Homo sapiens: one gene and its partners. The protein of the gene in region 3 purifies or fractionates together with the protein of the main gene of each other region. This does not show direct contact. Each region holds a gene or a part of one and is shown on either strand. Other genes may lie near its edges.

Region 1 (3,526 bases), on a different chromosome or scaffold from region 3:
CAAGGAAACCAGGGCTCTAAGAGACAAAGACAAAAAAAAAGCATAATAACTTTAGCACTTTGATGTGCTTCTTATTTAATAGGGTTGGAGTGGGGGAAGTTTTTTTTATTTTTTTTTTAACATTTTACAAGGAGAAAAGTTGTCTCTTAGAATTAAACCGAATGTTGATATTCAATCATGAATCTCAGTTGTTGCCTTTTTGGAACTTGAACAATGAGTGATGCTGGGGCCAGTTTCTGTGCACAGTGCACTGGGATGAGAAAGTTCCCAGAACTGTCCAGTTATAATGTCTTCATATCATCTGAATCACACAGAGAACTCCACATGAAAGGCAGCTGGCTCAGAGATCAGAAATCAGTCAGCTGCTGGGCTGGCTCCATCTCTTGTGGCTGCAGGATTTTCACAGCCAGGGTTTGTTGACCAGCGACTGGCTCTCAAGCCTTTTAGAAATCTTTCTTTCAAATTTTATTTATTCTGGTCTCTGGCGGAGTCATTTTGGGGATTTTTTTAATAGGACCCAGTCTGTCTGTTAACTAGCAATTACAGTTGTGCTGAGCTACTCAAAAATGAAATGAGTAGCAATAAACAGTGGATACCCACTGACCTGTATGCTATACGGTTATTTTGCTAGCCCACAGCCTTTGTAAAGCTATGGCTCTTCAGGCTGCTCACAGAAGAACATTTTGATGTGTCAGGTTATGTTATCATCCCTGCTTTCTTCTTCATACGATCCTGAATGACCTTAGCTAATCTGGCTGATGAATTATGTCAAATAGAAAGAAGTAGGCAATTACCAGGCAGGAGAGGGTATTTAGTCATTACCAGCAGGTCTGAGGAGTGCTCCTGGTGGCTGTTGCGTTGTTATGCTATATTAATAGCTCACAAAGCATAAAGGACTATTGTGGCTTTATTTTACCAGTTGTGGCATTGGGGTATGGCATTCCTTCATAGCCCACATCTGTCCAGTTGCCTGGTGGGTTGGCTTTTTCCTCTAGGGCAAGAAGGAGAAAGATAGTAATGAGGATATTTGATTTTTTTTTCCATTGTGGGGTCATCCCCAGGTTTTTCTTTTTTTTCCTTCTGCAGGAGCCTTGAGTAGGGAATCATCTGATGGGAGCAGGTGGGCCTGTCCATTTGAATTGATTTCCTTTGATTGCTGAAGAAGGACTATTGATGAACCACTTCTTTGCTGATTGTGGCAAACATTAGAATTGGAATGGAAATTTAAAAGAAAGGGATCTGACAGACTTAGAGTGAAGGATTTGTGTTCTGCCCAATTCCTTCCTAGAGTTAGCAGAGCCTCTGATTTCTACAGATATGCATGGTCTTAAAAATATTAAAGGAAGCACAACTCCTGTGTATGCAGTTTTACTTATTGGTGAAATTTTCTGCAATGCTTTTTTGATCTCTAACTGTTGAATATGTCATTTTCATCATCTTTCTACCCAAATTGTGAGGAGTGGGTCTTTGTTTTTTAATATATCCTGACCTCTTGAGGATCACCACAGTGTGACAACTTTCTCTGGGAAGACTCAGAGAGTAAATATCTTTTCTGTGTTTTGGTCGATTTAATTCTACAGGCTTCTCAAACTTACTGAGTTTTCTGTCAATTGCAGGGTATCTACTCCTTTAATAAGCTTTATTCCTTTCCTTGTTTTCTTTTTTTGTTTTTTCGTGTTTTTTTTTTTTTTGTTTTTTGTTTTTTTTTACATTGCCTCCCTTTCTCCAAATTTCTAAGAATAATTTTCAGGAAAGACTGCCTTTCCTTGAAAAAGAAATTCAGCTTAATGACACAGACTGCATTTATTGAGAACATATTTGACACTTGTCTAGTGGCTTCAAGCCAGTTTCTGGTCTACCAAAATAGGCTATCAGTTACATGTAATAGTGACAAATGACCCATTCTAGCAGTTCTGAATTGGAATGGCATTTTCAGGTTAGTCTTAATTTTAGCATATTCCAGGACTTAGATTTTTTTTCTTTTTTTTTTTTTTTTTCTGCTAAGTGGAAGGGATGAAAATTTGAGAATGGATTAACTGGCATGATGATAGAAAATAGAAAACAGATTTCAGAACTTAATCAATTAAACTCTTCACATAAACAAAATATTACTTCCTTCACCAGATAGATATATATGAATGTGGAGAGCCTAGAGGAGGTGTGAGGAGGGCCACAGCATTGTCCTTCCTTGAACAATGCATTATTGAAGGTGTTGCCTACCGTGGGCGGAAAAGTCATACAGAGGACCCTGAGAGGAGTCCTTGAGCAGTTGTTAGTATTTCAACGTTCTGCTCTTCCAGGGTTCCAAAACTGTGAATTATAGACTCTTTAATAAAGGAAAGTTGTTTCTTTAACTTTTGCCTTTGTACATCTGAAATATATCCCTTTTTAAAATTCTGTAAAGTCACATGGAATTTAAAATAATTTTTTGTCTTTAAAAAATGTCTTGCTTTCTCCTCTATTTTCCCTATTTTATTTTTGTTATTTATTTATTTAGAAACAGAGTCTCGCTCCATTGCCCAGGCTGGAGTGCAGTGGCGTGTTCTTGGCTCACTGCAACCTCCGCCTCCTGGGTTCAAGTGATTCTCATGCCTCAGTCTCCCGAGTAACTGGGATTACAGGCGCACACCACCATGCCCTCTTAATTTTTATATTTTTAGTAGACAGGGTGTTTCACCATGTTGGCCAGGCTGGTCTCGAACTCCTGGCCTCAAGTGATCCACCCACCTCGGCCTCCCAAAGTGCTCGGATTAGAGGCATGAGCCACCGTCCTCAGCCCTGTTATTTATTTTTTAAAAAAATTATTTTAAAGTTCTTTTCAGCGATATTTACTGAATCTACCTCTTTCACAAGACAGTGGGCAAGATTCAAAGAATAGTAAAATATATCCATTGCTTCTGCTTCGTGCTGTTTATTGAGAAAATGAGAGATGCCTGTGTGTGTACACTAGAAGTCACATCTAAAAATGTTTATTAATTGACAAAAGAATGTCTATGAACAGGAGCCTCAAGGAGGAGGGAGAGATTAATGTGAGGTGGAGTAAACTTTTAAGAGGAGTGTAAGTTATTAAAGTGAATATAATTCCATTTAATAATTCTTACTACAGCCCTAATGTATGCAAGGCACTATGAAATAAATTAATTCCTTCATTTGTCAGGGGGCAGTGCAGAGCTCCTTTTTGGAAGAACGTATTCATGGGGCAGCCCAAATGGGCTGTCGGAATGTTAGTTAATATTTTGAGAAGACTTCAGAATTTATTCATGTCCTTTCTCCACTATCCCCTTGTGGTCTCCCACCCCCCAATTTCAAAGGTAACTTTTAGGATTTTTGAATGTGTCTGGGAGCCTGCATGCAGGTGCACATGGTGTATTCTTAGTCCTCTGTTTTCCTATGTTTGAGACTCAGTTATGAATCTCAAGGTTAACTTTGTCACAGAACACCTCAGAGTGTTCTGTCCTTTAGGTATTCATCATTTAGATCTGTTGCTTGGTTTTTTACCTTAAAAAAATTTGTAAAAAATGGCTTA
Region 2 (3,958 bases), on a different chromosome or scaffold from region 3:
TGATAGAGTCCCTCTAAAGGTACAGTCCTTAGAAAGAGGGACTGTATTAAAAAGTATTTTGGGAATATCAAAGCTTTAATATTCCAACAAAGACTAAGAGAAAAACAATACTCAGTGGGTGATTGCAGTCCTAAATTGTCATATGTTGTTATTTTCAGGTCAAGAGCATCAACTTCAATTCCATACATTCACCAAATATTCTCAGTATACACACAGTCTTGATTACATGTATCAATTTCACCAGTTATGACTTCTAAAAATTATATATATTTTTTCAGAACAAGACCACTATTATTAACTAACTTGAACAATTGTATCATCCAAAGGCCAAAGATCATATGGCAGATCAGGGAAGTCATGAAGTTGATTTGGTCTTGACGTGGAAAACCATTAAACAACAAAAGCAACTGAACCCATGTATGCACAGAAACAATCAAACACTAGTTCATTTTATAGTGCCCAGGAAAATGTTCCTTCTTTTAAAATGGATTTTATTTGAAAGCGCAGAAAATGAAAACTAGTGAGATATATTTTTGGTATTATAATAGGCAATTGGTTGAGGTTCAAGTTTAGTTTCAGGTAATATTATCAGGGAAGATTCCATGTTTTAAAATAGTATTTATGGATCATGGGTAGGTTAAGAAAGATGCATTGGCATATAGTCTTGATAGTTAAGTCCACGATTATCATTTTAGAATCCAGGCTATGCTTGCTGCTCTTTTTATCCACATTTTAAATTACAATTGCATTTTTTACTTGTTCAGTGCACACTTTGATGCACCACAAGTGCATTAATTTTGAATCGTGTGCAATATAGAAATATTTTGAGACTCACAACATTGAAACAAGGTGACACCCTAGTTGACTTTATCACTAATGTGATTTGAACATTATTTAAACAAATCTAGACTGAACATGAAAGAAAGGAGTTTTGGGCAGTGACATTTTTCACAGAATGTATATCTCAAAGGTGAAAGCAGAGTTTTTCCAGTGCAATAAAAAGAAACAGAATATGCAGATTTTGAGCTACTCACTCTATAGAGGATAACCTAACACGGCTGAAAATTGAGCTGGGACATTCAGACGAAAGTGACAATCCATGGACAGAATAGGGAATAACAGGTGTGAAGAGAACAAACTTATCACTGAATGTTTGCAAGCTGGTTAAGGCATAGCCTTGATGGCTCTCTAGCAAACTGTAGAAACAATGTAGCTTTGGGTAGTTTCATGCTTTGCAGAATTTCTTAGACTATAAAGTGACACAGCCTGGAATATAGGTTGATAATTCACTATAGGTCTTCAAAATACTTATCTTTGAAAACCGCTTCTCTGTTTGGTGGGGTACAATTTGGGGGTCATTTCCTTATGCTCTTTCTTAAATGGAGTTTTCATTTTGATGTTAGTTTATGTATAATAGGTAGGATGCAAAAAGATATGTAATTGAAACAAAAAACATTGGACTAAAATATCAGTAATTGAACATGTTTATGTTTGATTATTATTTACACTATGGAAAGATGCAATTCTAGTACTTTGTTAGGAAACTGCATTAAAGCAGTTCTGCCTTGTATAATCTGTAAGTACCTATTAAGACAAAATACTTCTAAAGATACTTATGAAATGTATACACATTTTTTCTTGCACGTTACAAAGAAAATACTCAATTGCATAACACGGATGTTTGACAAACTTTTTTTTTTTTAATGCATTTCTTTCTTTCATGAGACATTGAAACCACTGATAGCTCATTTCACCCTATCTTAAACCCTTCTCTTGTCTATAAAACTAATACGGGTCACACCGGACCTTCGGATTAATTGGATCCACATTCCCCAATGATGTTTGCACCCCATTCAAGATAGCCATGCCATTGTCATTTAACTCGTGAACCTCTCTTTAAAACTAAAATGGATGTGAAAGAATAAAATTCAGTGTACTGTAAGTATTCACAGTAATTCTAGTAGAATTAGCTGTCATAACATGTTTATTATATAATGAGCTGGCATGACACAGAAATATATTTTGTGTTTGTATGACTTTTATTTTAAATAGGTTAAATCTGGTGCCACTCCATATATAGAGTGCTTTTGAAAAAAAATCAATAAAAAGAAACAAAAAAAATAAATGAGTGAATGCAAAATAAGCAACTGTGCCTTTTATACCTGTTGTTACGGTAAAAAAACGGTTGTTGGGTTTGGACAATGAGGGGAAATGGGCTATTCCCAACTTTTTTGATCCTGTATATTTGTCCATGTTTATTTTCTGAACATAATAAATAATATATTAAAAATTTGCCTTCTGACAAACTCAGATAATGGACCAGTCTTAAATATTGTTATGTCATAAAGCAAAGTTAAGGCATTAATATGGGCTGCTTAAATCTGACTAGAAGATGAAAGCGTTTATTGTAAGTGTAACACAGAGATACTATCAGGAGTGAAATCAGTCCATTTGGCAAGGTAAAATACTGATTTAGAGTTTTATTCTTTATTTCTTTTTTGTTGTGTTTCTTTCAGCTATGGTTTCATTTTGGTTGTACAGTATATAAACCATATTTGTTTTCTGTACACAAGACTCTCAAGTGAATTTTGCATGCATTATACATTAGGACACATTTATAAATTAATGAGTAACTATATAAATTTATGTGTATTAAAACGTCTGTAGCTTCAATCTAAAATCTACTGCTCTTTCTGAATCTCCAGATATCATTTCTGTATGGTTTCTGACTGGCCTGCTGCCTGAGTTTCAGAAAACAAGGGAGGCATTATTTTTATGGGAGGAGGAACTAAGATGGTACTGAGGATGTCTGACTGAAACACTACCCTAGGAAGCTGTCTTGTAGGAAAATAGAATAAAACACACAGACCAGAAGAAATTGTCAAGAAGCAAACAGCCATCCAAAAACAGTCATGAGAAATCTAAAGACCTAAATAATCTTAGGTATATGCTCTCAGTGAGAAATAAGAAAATGTGTCCTTAAGCAAAAATAAATAAATAAATAAATAAATAAATAAATAATAAAAAGTGAGCATGATCATGAATATAGTAAATCTTGTGAGTTGTGACCTAGGTGAAGGTGTAATGATAACATCTGGAGGAAGCATCATTTGTTCAGCTACCTAGGGTTTACTTTCAGACTTTTCCTACAGTTTAAAGCACTTGCGTTCAGTGTGGTACGATCTGTTTGTAATGTTAATCATTGACTATTGTTCTGCTACTTGGATGTTGATAGTGAAGCAGAGAACAATTTATCATCGTTTATTATGAGTCACTATGCACGCAACTATGCTTAACATGGCGAAATGTATTAAACACTCGTCCAACTATTTATGAAATACTTTGCATAATTTAATTTGCTTTTGTACAGTTTTATGTAAATAAATTGCTTGTCATTTTTGTCTCTGCAAATTAAAATATAACATGGTCAAATGGTTTCACACTTGTAAGTGTACTTCTCTGTTGACAGGTAATTCAGTTTTGATTGGACGAAAAGTGAATGGATGCATGTACCAGTTTGATTTAAGATGGTTTGATTCCTTGTAAATTAAGACACAACAAGGAGGCTAATGTGGCAGCAATTGTTGATTTAGGGGGGGCCATTCATAACTGTCACATTACTTTGCCTCGTAATGGAATAGAACTCGGATCCTTCAGTTTCATCAAAATAATTCCTGAGACATTTACCTAGCTAGCTTATTACCTTAAAGTGTATGGCAGAAAAAGGAACTTAACATCATTAACATGAAGACTGATTTATTTTCAGAGGCATCTACAGGAATTTCACATTTAAGATAAAAGTAATCCTAAGTCAAAATGTATCTTTGTTTTGGAAATATTTGTTTTTAATCTAACTTAACAACAAATACAAAAAAGTTATAGGCTTTAAAAAATCATGCAAAATGTAGAGAAAATAAAGGAAAAATATAATTTTTACTTCGATAACTTACTTTTTCTT
Region 3 (3,936 bases):
CAAATTTTCCTTTTAAGCCGTTCTCTTTCCCCCCAAAATCGAAGTGGTTACTTTAGATGGGAATCTGGCCACTTCCCCATTACTCCGCTCTCGGTTTTTTTGTTTGTTTTAGTTTGAGACAGGGTCTCACCTTGTCACCCGGGTTGGAGTGCAGTTGACAGCTCATTGCAGCTTGGACCTCCGGGGCCACAGCGATTCTCCTGCCTCGGCCTCTCAGTAGGTAGGACTACAGGCACGCACCACCACACCCGGCTAATATTTGTAATTTTTTGTAGAGACAGGGTTTCGCCATGTTGCCCAGGCTGGTCTCGGACTCCTGAGCTCAATCTCTTGTTAACTGGACTCTGCAAGCCGCAGGGAGAAACGTGCTTTCCTTAGAAAACTAGACTAGAGCATATTTACTGATGCTAAAGAGGTTGGTTTTGTATTTCCCTGGGCAAATAATTCTCTCTGAGCCTCCGTTTCTTCTAGAGATGATGTCCATCTTGCAGGATTGAGAACTGGTATAAGCTCCATTATGAAAAGTGACTGACACAAGCTTGGCAGAAAACGGGTATACTCCGTTTCTCTCCTTAATATCCTCCATGCCATTTGATTGCACAGCAGGGTAGGCGAGTGAGAACTTAGTGTTAGACTCTGTAAAGTATTTAAGATGTGCAGCGAGCTCTGCCTGTCTGAAGTTTTCAACGGACCGGAAAAGGATACTTTCAGGTGCTGAATTATTAAGAAACATATGGTGGGCCCCATTTCCATTTCCCCAGGCTTAAAGGACATGGACAAGCAGGTGAGCCCCGCCCCTGTCTCTCTTCCAGGGCGGAGCTTGGGTAGGCCCCGCCCTCTTGCTCGGTGGGGCGGGGCGAGGGCTGGAGGCGGGGTAGGTCCAGCGAGCGAGCGAGCGCCCAGCGCCTCGGGCTGAGTGAGGGAGGAGGTTCGGTGGAGAGGCTGCAAGTGGGCGAGGGCTGGGCGCAGCGACCTCATTGGAGCCGGCCGGTGGACGCCCCGGCGGAACCGCCCAGAGTTCCTGTCCTGCGCTACCTACCCGAACGCGCCTGCGCGCTGCGAACCCCGCCCCGGTGTCACCTGTTGGAGCCCCCCGCCCGCGTAGCCGTGCACATGCGCACTGCCGGCCGCCGGCCAGTGGGGTCACGTGTTGCGCGCGAGCCACCTCCCCTGCTGGCGCTTCCTGTCGCTACCGCTGCGGCCCAGGGCCCGCGGGAGCCCAGGGCGGTGCCGGGTGAGACAAGGCCGGGGTTTGGCTCGGATTCACCGCGAGGTATGCCGCGTCCCCGCCCCTCGGCGTGGGGAGTTCTGGGGACCGCGGGGGTAGATGGAGGCGGCGCGGGCGGGGCAGGGCGGCGCGTCCCGCAGCGCGGGAGTGGGGGTCCCGTGTCGCCTCCCCCTACGGACTCCGTTGCCCACCTTCCGTGAGGCCTGGCTGTGTCATCGGGGCCGCAGCCTTGGAGTGTCTGGCCTCGCTTTCACCTGAGCCGGAGTCACTCCCGAAATCTGACACTCAGAGTCCCCCGGAGCGCCCGCCAGCTCCTCCGCCCGCTCCCCGCCGCCTCCACGCCCGTCAGCTGGTCTCCCCGCCAGCGCTGTGGCGAGATGCGCCGGCTTCCTGCCTTTTCCCCCTACCTTCTGTGCACCTCCCCTTTGGTGCCAGAATGGGGTTTCTGAAACACCGATACGATCCCGCCACTTCTTTCCCAGCGCCCTCAGAATAATGCCCAAACGCTTTTCGGCTTAGAGGTTTTCATATTCTGCCGCTTGCTCACATTTCCACCTCGGCTTGTGCATTCAGGCCTCACCGCTTATGCCCCAGTCATACCAGGCCTCAGGTTCCATTGTACAGGCCAAGCTGCTCCCCACTTCAGAGCCGTCAAGTGTTCCCTCGTCTTGGAATCCTATTTCCCTCTTTCCCCCAACTTCTTTGCGTGACTCAGCTCAGGCGTCACCGCCTCGAAGGAGGAGCCTTTTCTCCCAGGGCTGAAGAAGGGGTCACCTCAGGGCACCCATGGCCCCTGGGGCAACCCCGTGTAGTCCACCTCCACCCTGTAAATGGTCATTGAAGGCTGAGACCGTCTTAGGTTCATTTCTGCGCTCCCAGTGCCCAGCGCAAGGTCTGACACAGGAGGTCCTGTGAATAACTGTGAGATCTTTATGGGAATCAGAATGCTGAGCCAGCTTTCTCCAGAGCTCAGCTGTGAGATGGAACTTTGATGACATGTCCTTGGATGATGAAAATGTTCTGTGTGTGTGCTGTCTGGTCATAGCCCCTCACCACATATGGCTGTTAAGCACTTGGAATGTGTCTGTTGTGGCTGATGGACTGGATTTTTAGCTTTATTTCATTTTAATTCATTGAAATTTAAAATTAAATAGCCAGCTGTGGCTTCCATAAGCACAGCTTTAGAGCCTTTCTGAATTCTACCCAGCCTTCCACCCACCCTGAACCTAGAGTACTTCCCTGAATGTGCTTTTTAAATTTGAGTCCGTTCAGAACATTCCTCAGTAAACCCATTAACAGGTGATCCCCATCCCTCCCATGGCCTGTGCTGCTTCAGTGCTTTAATTAAAGGTAACCCATACTTTGGTGTTCAGCATTGCCTTCTTTGGGAGTTTACTATCCACACCTTACCACGGGTAGCACTGTTGGGGGCGTGGCTTATGGGCTACTCCAGCCTGAATCTCTGTAACTCTTCCATAGGTATCTAGGCTGCCATGATGCCAGGGCCAAGACCTCGGAAGGGCCCTCAGGCCAGAGGCCAAGGGGTGGCCGCTGCCAAGCAGGTATGGAACTTAGCCTTCTAGGCTACTGGGTCGGTTTGGGGATGGGGGTCCCTAGACAACTTAGGCAAACTGGATCACATGTAGTTCCCCCATTAGTTCAGAGACTTGGAGCAGTGCCTCCTGGAGGTGGCAGAGCCCTTAGACACCCTCCTACTAGTCTCTTCCACATACAAGTGGGGAGAGGGTTCAGGAATCACCAAAGTTTAGGATGTTCTGATGGGACCTCAGTGCTCTCAAAGGTTCCTTAGATAGGGTCACAACTTTGCTTGTTAGCCAGGGATGCCAGGGCATGAGGGCTGTAGTCAGTGGGAGGACTTCACTGCCTAGGGACAGATGGCTGTGCCCCAAGTGGAAGAACAGGGGGGTCTCCTCTCCAATTTTCTTCCTTTATTTCTTCTGGGCCTACATCTTGAGACTTCTTAGTCCATTTTTACTGTCTTTAAAAAGGCAGGTAAGAAAGGAGGTGGGGTAAAGGGCATAGACTCAAGTCGCAAAGAGCTTGTTTTAAATTCTGATTGTCTCACAAGACTGTCTCAGTTTCATCTGAACATTGGGATAAAAACAGAATGTAAGCTGGGTGCCGTGGATCACGCCTGTAATCCCAGCACTTTGGGAGGCCGAGGTGGGTGGATCACCTGAGGTCAGGAGTTTGAGACCAGCCTGGCCAACATAGTGAAACCCCATCTCTACTAAAAATACAAAAATTAGCTGGGCGTGGTGGCATGTGCCTGTATTCCCAGCTTCTTGGGAGGCTGAGGCAGGAGAATCGCTTAGACCCGGGAGGCAGAGGTTGCAGTGAGCCAAGATAGTGCCACTGCACTCTAGCCTGGGCGACAGAGCCAGACTCTGTCTCAGAAAAAAAAAAAAAAAAGGATGTACCTCTACCTAGAGTAGTCATATTCATGGAAACAGAAGAATGGTGCTTACCAGAGGCTGGAAGGAGGGGAGGAAGGGGGGTTAATGTTTAATGGGTAGAAAGTTTGTTTCACAACATGAAAACAGTTCTGTGGATGGATGATGGCGATGGTAGCAGGATATTGTGAATGTCCTTATGCCATTGAACTCACCCTTAACAGTGGTTAAGATGGTAAATTTCATGTTGTATGTGTTTTACCAGAGTTTAAAAAAATAGGACCTTCTTTTTTT
Region 4 (2,454 bases), on a different chromosome or scaffold from region 3:
AATGCAGTAGTACGATCTCTGATCACTGCAACCTTTGCCTCTCTGGCTCAAGTGATCCTCCCGCTTCAGTCTCTCAAGTAGCTGGGACTGTAGTTGCACACCACTAGGCCCAGCATTTTTTTTTTTTTTTTTGGTAGAAGCTGGTTTTTATCATGTTGCCCAAGCTGCTCTCAAACTCCTGGGCTCAAGCGGTTGGCCCACCTGGGCCACCCAAAGTGCTGGGATTGCAAGCATGAGCTACCATGCCCGGCCTCCTATAATCAATGTTTTTTTTTTTTTTTTTTTGAGAGGGAGTCTTGCTCTGTCACCCAGGCTGGAGTGCAGTGGTGCTAGCTATGTCGGCTCACTGCAACCTCTGCCACCCGGGTTCAAGCGATTCTCCTGCCTCAGCCTCCCGAGTAGCTGGGATTACAGGCGCCTGCCACCATTGCCGGCTAATTTTTTTTTGTATTTTAGTAGAGACAGGATTTCACCATGTTGGTCAGGCTGGTCTCAAACTCCTGACCTCATGATCCACCCACCTTAGCCTCCCAAAGTGCTGGGATTACAGGTGTGAGCCACTGCACATGGCCAATCAATGCTTCTTAATAGTAAGATTTATTTTAAAATTTGGATTGGGGTTATAAGACTTTCAGTAGTCTTGGATATTACCATCTTTATCCTGAATGAAAGTGTAGCAAGAGGCTGGGCGCAGTGGCTCATGCCTATAATCCTAGCACTTTGGGAGGCTGAGGCCAGAGGATCCTTGAGCCCAGGAGACTAACCTGGGCAACAAAGCAAGACCCTGTCTGTATTAAAATTACAAAAGCGTGGTAAGGATCATTTCCTCATTAACCTTGAACATCCAAACACAAACCATCAAAAAGAATCAACTTCAGAAAGACATTATTGCTTTATTGGTTAAGGTGATTAAAAGAAGGGGGCCCCTCAGGCCACAAAGATAATTAACTGATTGTCACAAACCATATTGAAACTCTTTTTTAAAAAGGGTATAGATAACTTTTAATTTACAATTTTAACAATCAAAGTAGCCAAGAGTAGAGTTTGCAATAGGACTAGAAAGTATTCCAGTGGCTCATATATAAGTGGGCTAATTTTATCTATTTTTAGGCCTATTAGGCCTGTCAGTCTGGATTTTCCATTACTTGGAAATGGGGACTGGGGAACAGATGCTTCTGGCCACTCTGAGCCCTGGCTTGATCCTTGGGTCTCATCTCTCTCTCTCTCCCCGTTTGTGCTTCACCTCTCAGCGGATACTTGGCTCTTATCTCAGGACCTGACCTCCCACTGAGCTCCAAGCCTGCAAAGCATGCTGCCACCCAGTTATTTCCCCCTTAACATCCTGCCATCACTTCAAATTTAATACCCCTATGCCAAAAAATCACTGACTCCTAATTTCACTTTTGTTGGTGGCACCAGTTTTATTCTCTTGGACACCTAAGCTCAAAAACAGTGGAACTTCTTTTGACTCATCGCTCTCCTTCCTTCCCTAGAAGTGAGCTACCATTTAAAAGTGATGTGCTCATTCTCAGCAAACTATCCCAAGGACAAAAAAATAAACACCGCATGTTCCCACTCATAGGTGGGAATTGAACAATGAGAACACATGGACACAGGAAGGGGGACATCACACACCGGGGCCTGTTGTGGGGTGGGGGGAGGGGGGAGGGATAGCATTAGCAGATATACCTAATGTAAATGACGAGTTAATGGGTGCAGCACACCAACATGGCACATGTATACATATGTAACAAACCTGCACGTTGTGCACATGTACCCTAGAACTTAAAAGTATAATGATACAAAAAAAGTGATGTGCTATCATCAGTCACCCGAGAAATGCAAATTAAAACCACAAGGAGTGCCCTTATGCACCCACTAAAATCGAGCAGACTGAAGGTGCTAACTGTTGCCTGAGGATATGGAGTCTCACACATTGCTGGGGAAATATAAAATGGCCTGGGCATTTTGGAAACCAGTTTTGGTTAACAGTAAATTAAATGTACACTTACCACATGACTCAATAATTCTACTCTTAGGATTTACTCAAGGAAAATAAAAACATATGTCCACACAAAGACTTTTTCACAAATGTGCATATCAGCTTTATTCATAATAGGCATAAGATAGAAACATCCAAATGTCCATCAATGGGTGGAAGAATAAAGTGTGGTTTACCCATGTAACAGAATACTAGCAACAAAGAGGAACTGCTGTTACCTGCAAGCAATGGATGAATCTCAAAATTATGTTAAACCAGAGAAGCCAGACACAAGAGAATACATACTATATGATTCAATTTCTGTGAAATTCCATTTCTACAAAAAGCAAAACTTACTCATAGGGGCAGAAAGTAGACCAGTGGTTCTCTGGGGCTGGGTCAGGGAGAGAGCAGCTGACTGCACGGGGCATGAGAGGGTGACGGCAAAGTTCTGCACCCTGAATGTGATGATG
Region 5 (3,526 bases), about 150 Mb from region 3:
TTTTTTTAGGCTGAGCATGGTGGCTCCCACCCGCCATCCCAGCACTTTGGGAGGCCAAGGTGGGTGGATCACCTGAGGTCAAGGGTTCAAGACCAGCCTGGCCAACATGGCAAAACCCTGTCTCTATCAAAAATACAAAAATTTGGCTGAGCCCGGTGGCTCATGCCTGTAATCCCAGCACTTTGGGAGGCCAAGGCAGGTGGATCACCTGAGGTCAGGAGTTCGAGACCAGCCTGGCCAACATGGCAAAACTCCTTCTCTACTAAAAATAAAAAAATTAGCCGGGTGTGGTGGTGGGTGCCTGTAATCCCAGCTACTCGGGAGGCCGAGGCAGGAGAATCACTTGAACCTGGGAGGCAGAGGTTGCAGTGAGCTGAGATCCCACTGTTGTACTCCAGCCTAAGCAAGAAGAGCAAAACTCCATCTCAAAAAACAAACAAGCAAACAACAACAAGAAATTAGCCGGGCATGGCTGCATGTGCCTGGAGTCCTAGCTACTCGGGAGGATGAGACAGGAGAATAGCTTGAACCCAGGAGGCACAGGCTGCAATGAGCCAAGATTGCACCACTGCACTCCAATCTGGGCGACAGAGTGAGACTCCAAATTAAAAAAAAAAAAATTTTTTTTTCATTAATAGACTCTAAGAATATGTGAAAGTAAATTTTTTATAGGCTTCTCCAAATGTCTTTCACTAATTAATCTAAATATGTATTTTAAAGATTTTCCAGCTGGGCGCAGTGGCTCACGCCTGTAATTCCAGCACTTTGGGAGGCCAAGGAGGGTGGATCACCTGAGGTCGGGAGTTCGAGACCAGCCTGACCAACATGGTGAAACCCTGTCTCTACTAAAAATACAAAATTAGCCAGGAGTGGTGGTGCGCACCTGTAATCCCAGCTACTCGGGAGGGTGAGGCAGGAGAATCGCTTGAACCTGGGAGGTGAGGTTGCAGTGAGGCGAGATTGCGCTATATTGCACTCCAGCCTGGGCAACAAGAGCAAAACTCCATCTCAAAAAAAAAAAAAAGGTTTTCCACAATCCCCTCTAAATTGAAATGGTCACAAGCCATTCATTGTAAAGGGTAACAGTTTGACATTATTTTAGGGTTTTCGTGTTTTATGTCTTAGAATAAAGATTATTGGAAGACATTCTTTCTCTCTCATACTATGTTAAGATATTTTTCTAACTTTAGCTTTCAAAAACAGTGAACATAGATTTGAATGTAATTGAGAATTGTAGAGCAAAGCAATGATGTAACTTTAAAGTATAGGAGTCATGTATTCACGCTTTAATTCAGCTTGTCTACTGCTTAAAATTACATTCCCTTGTTACTTTATATGTAATAGTGGTTACATAGTCTTGTCCAAGTTCATTCTTTGTGAATTTAGGTCCCCTTTATACATTTTGTAGAATTTTTTTTTTTTTTATGTTGTGGGATACATGTGCAGGATGTGCAGGTTTGTTACATACGTAAATGTGTGCCATGGTGATTTGCTGCACCCATCAACCCATCACCTAGGTATTAAGCCCAGCATGCATTAGCTAATTTTTAATGCTCTCCCTCTCCATCCCCCCACCCTGCCCCCTCCCTCGCCACAGGCCCCAGTGTGTGTTGTTCCCCTCCCTGTGTCCATGTGTTCTCATTGTTCAGCTCCCACTTATAAGCGAGAACATGGCAGTGTTTGGTCTTTTGTGCCTGCATTAGTTTGCTGAGGATAATGGCCTCCAGCTCCATCCATGTCCCTGCAAAGAGCATGATCTCCTTCCCTTTTTATGGCTGCATAGTATTCCATGGTGTGTATGTACCACATTTTCTTTATCCAGTCTATCATTGATGGGCATTTGAGTTGATTCCATCATTTTGCAGAAATGTTGAAGGATAGAATTTGCCCTTTTACAATGAAATAAAGCTGCAGATTATATCCTATATTGGCCACTGTGTTGGCCTTTTCAGTCAGTTATGTTTTCAGTCAATTATTAATCTTTTGCACTATCTTGTCAAATATAAAATTCTTTAATCATTATATCATGGTAATTCTGATATTGCAGAGGATAGTGAAGATGAAAAAGAAGATCATAAAAATGTGCGCCAACAACGGCAGGCGGCATCTAAAGCAGCTTCTAAACAGAGAGAGATGCTCATGGAAGATGTGGGCAGTGAGGAAGAACAAGAAGAGGAGGATGAGGCACCATTCCAGGAGAGTATGTGAAGTTGTTTTGTGTACTTTGGTTGTTTGGTCATAATTGTAGTTTGTGACCTTGGTTACTTTGGCATTTTCTAGGATGCTAAATGTTACAACCAGTCCCTTAAATTGGGTAGATACTCCGTGTTAAAAGAGATGACTGTATTGGTTCCTGTTAATATTTTTAAAGGTTCAGAGATTCTCACGATTGCCCACCATTTGTAATGGTTGCACCCTTTATTTAATGATGTCTGTGTTCAAACACTGAATGAACAATTTGCTTAAGTAACAGTCACATTAGGCATTGTGATTGAGATTTGTATTTTGCCCTGGTGGAGGAGGTTGTAGACCTCTTTTCACAGAAAAAAACATGTTAATAATAAAATTTAGGTGTTTCACAGGTTATTCAGATTAGTTAATCCTATGTATTTTTGTTTTGTGTTTGGTTTTCTTGTTTCACTTATTCATAATTGGACCAAAAAGGCCCTGTCAGTTCAGTTTTGTTTCCCTGGTCTCAACCAGTACTACTTGGAAGTGATGGAACTACCAAAAGTTATTTGATAGTTTCAGTTTTTATTCAGATTAACTCTTACCCTTCCTGTTTTCAATCTACTTTTCAAACACATCACTCATGTAACTCTCTCATGTAAGGTGCATGCAAAATCCATTTGACAAATGAGGCCAGTGATGACTCCAGTCAAATTGGTAGTACAGCTCCAAATAGAATCCAAGGGTGTTTGACTCCCAAATCCCATCCTCTAGTCATTCTTAGCACTCTCTTCCTTTTTTACTTGGAAGGATGTGTACATTAAGTTAGATGTTGAAATTCTTCTTTCTTCTCAGAAGATTCCGGCAGCGATGAAGATTTCCTAATGGAAGATGATGACGATAGTGACTATGGCAGTTCGAAAAAGAAAAACAAAAAGATGGTTAAGAAGTCCAAACCTGAAAGAAAAGAAAAGAAAATGCCCAAACCCAGACTAAAGGCTACAGGTAATTTCTGCAGAAGTGAAATTAAATTTACTGCTTTAAAAATTTTGAGAATCATTATTTTCAATACAGAAATTCCTCATTAGGATTTGGCATTGGCCTGATGTTTAGCAGGAATACAAGAAATCTAAAAGGGTCTTGTATTCTGCAACTGGAAGTATCTCTTATTAATAAAGACACTAGCCTGTTTAAGAGTCTAGTGGGCTTAGCCATGTTCTTCAACTACTGCCAGTACTTGAGCAAGATTTCAGAATGATCTATTTGTTTCAGACACAGTGGTAGAAACACTGTGTCATCATAGTTGTTACTGCTCTTTTTTCCTCACTGGTATCACAGTCTCAGCAGCCAGCAAAGA

The links.
Region 1: the proteins of CC2D1B (region 3) and FAT3 purify together in Homo sapiens (affinity purification with mass spectrometry; one large-scale study listed by BioGRID and IntAct). This does not show direct contact.
Region 2: the proteins of CC2D1B (region 3) and PCDH7 purify together in Homo sapiens (affinity purification with mass spectrometry; one large-scale study listed by BioGRID and IntAct). This does not show direct contact.
Region 4: the proteins of CC2D1B (region 3) and ZNF843 purify together in Homo sapiens (co-immunoprecipitation; one large-scale study listed by IntAct). This does not show direct contact.
Region 5: the proteins of CC2D1B (region 3) and NUCKS1 fractionate together in Homo sapiens (co-fractionation; one large-scale study listed by BioGRID). This does not show direct contact.

What each region holds. Positions count from the first base shown.
Region 1 is NC_000011.10:92,227,816-92,231,341, forward strand, and holds part of FAT3 (protocadherin Fat 3 isoform 1 precursor), read left to right. Parts: intron 1-3,526.
Region 2 is NC_000004.12:31,143,364-31,147,321, forward strand, and holds the end of PCDH7 (protocadherin-7 isoform d precursor), read left to right. Parts: 3' UTR 1-3,437; downstream 3,438-3,958.
Region 3 is NC_000001.11:52,363,406-52,367,341, reverse strand, and holds the start of CC2D1B (coiled-coil and C2 domain-containing protein 1B), read left to right. Parts: upstream 1-1,136; 5' UTR 1,137-1,273; intron 1,274-2,707; 5' UTR 2,708-2,721; coding exon 2,722-2,790; intron 2,791-3,936. UniProt on the Homo sapiens protein: Transcription factor that binds specifically to the DRE (dual repressor element) and represses HTR1A gene transcription in neuronal cells.
Region 4 is NC_000016.10:31,437,354-31,439,807, forward strand, and holds part of ZNF843 (zinc finger protein 843), read right to left. Parts: intron 1-2,454.
Region 5 is NC_000001.11:205,719,175-205,722,700, reverse strand, and holds part of NUCKS1 (nuclear ubiquitous casein and cyclin-dependent kinase substrate 1), read left to right. Parts: intron 1-2,047; coding exon 2,048-2,200; intron 2,201-3,024; coding exon 3,025-3,174; intron 3,175-3,526.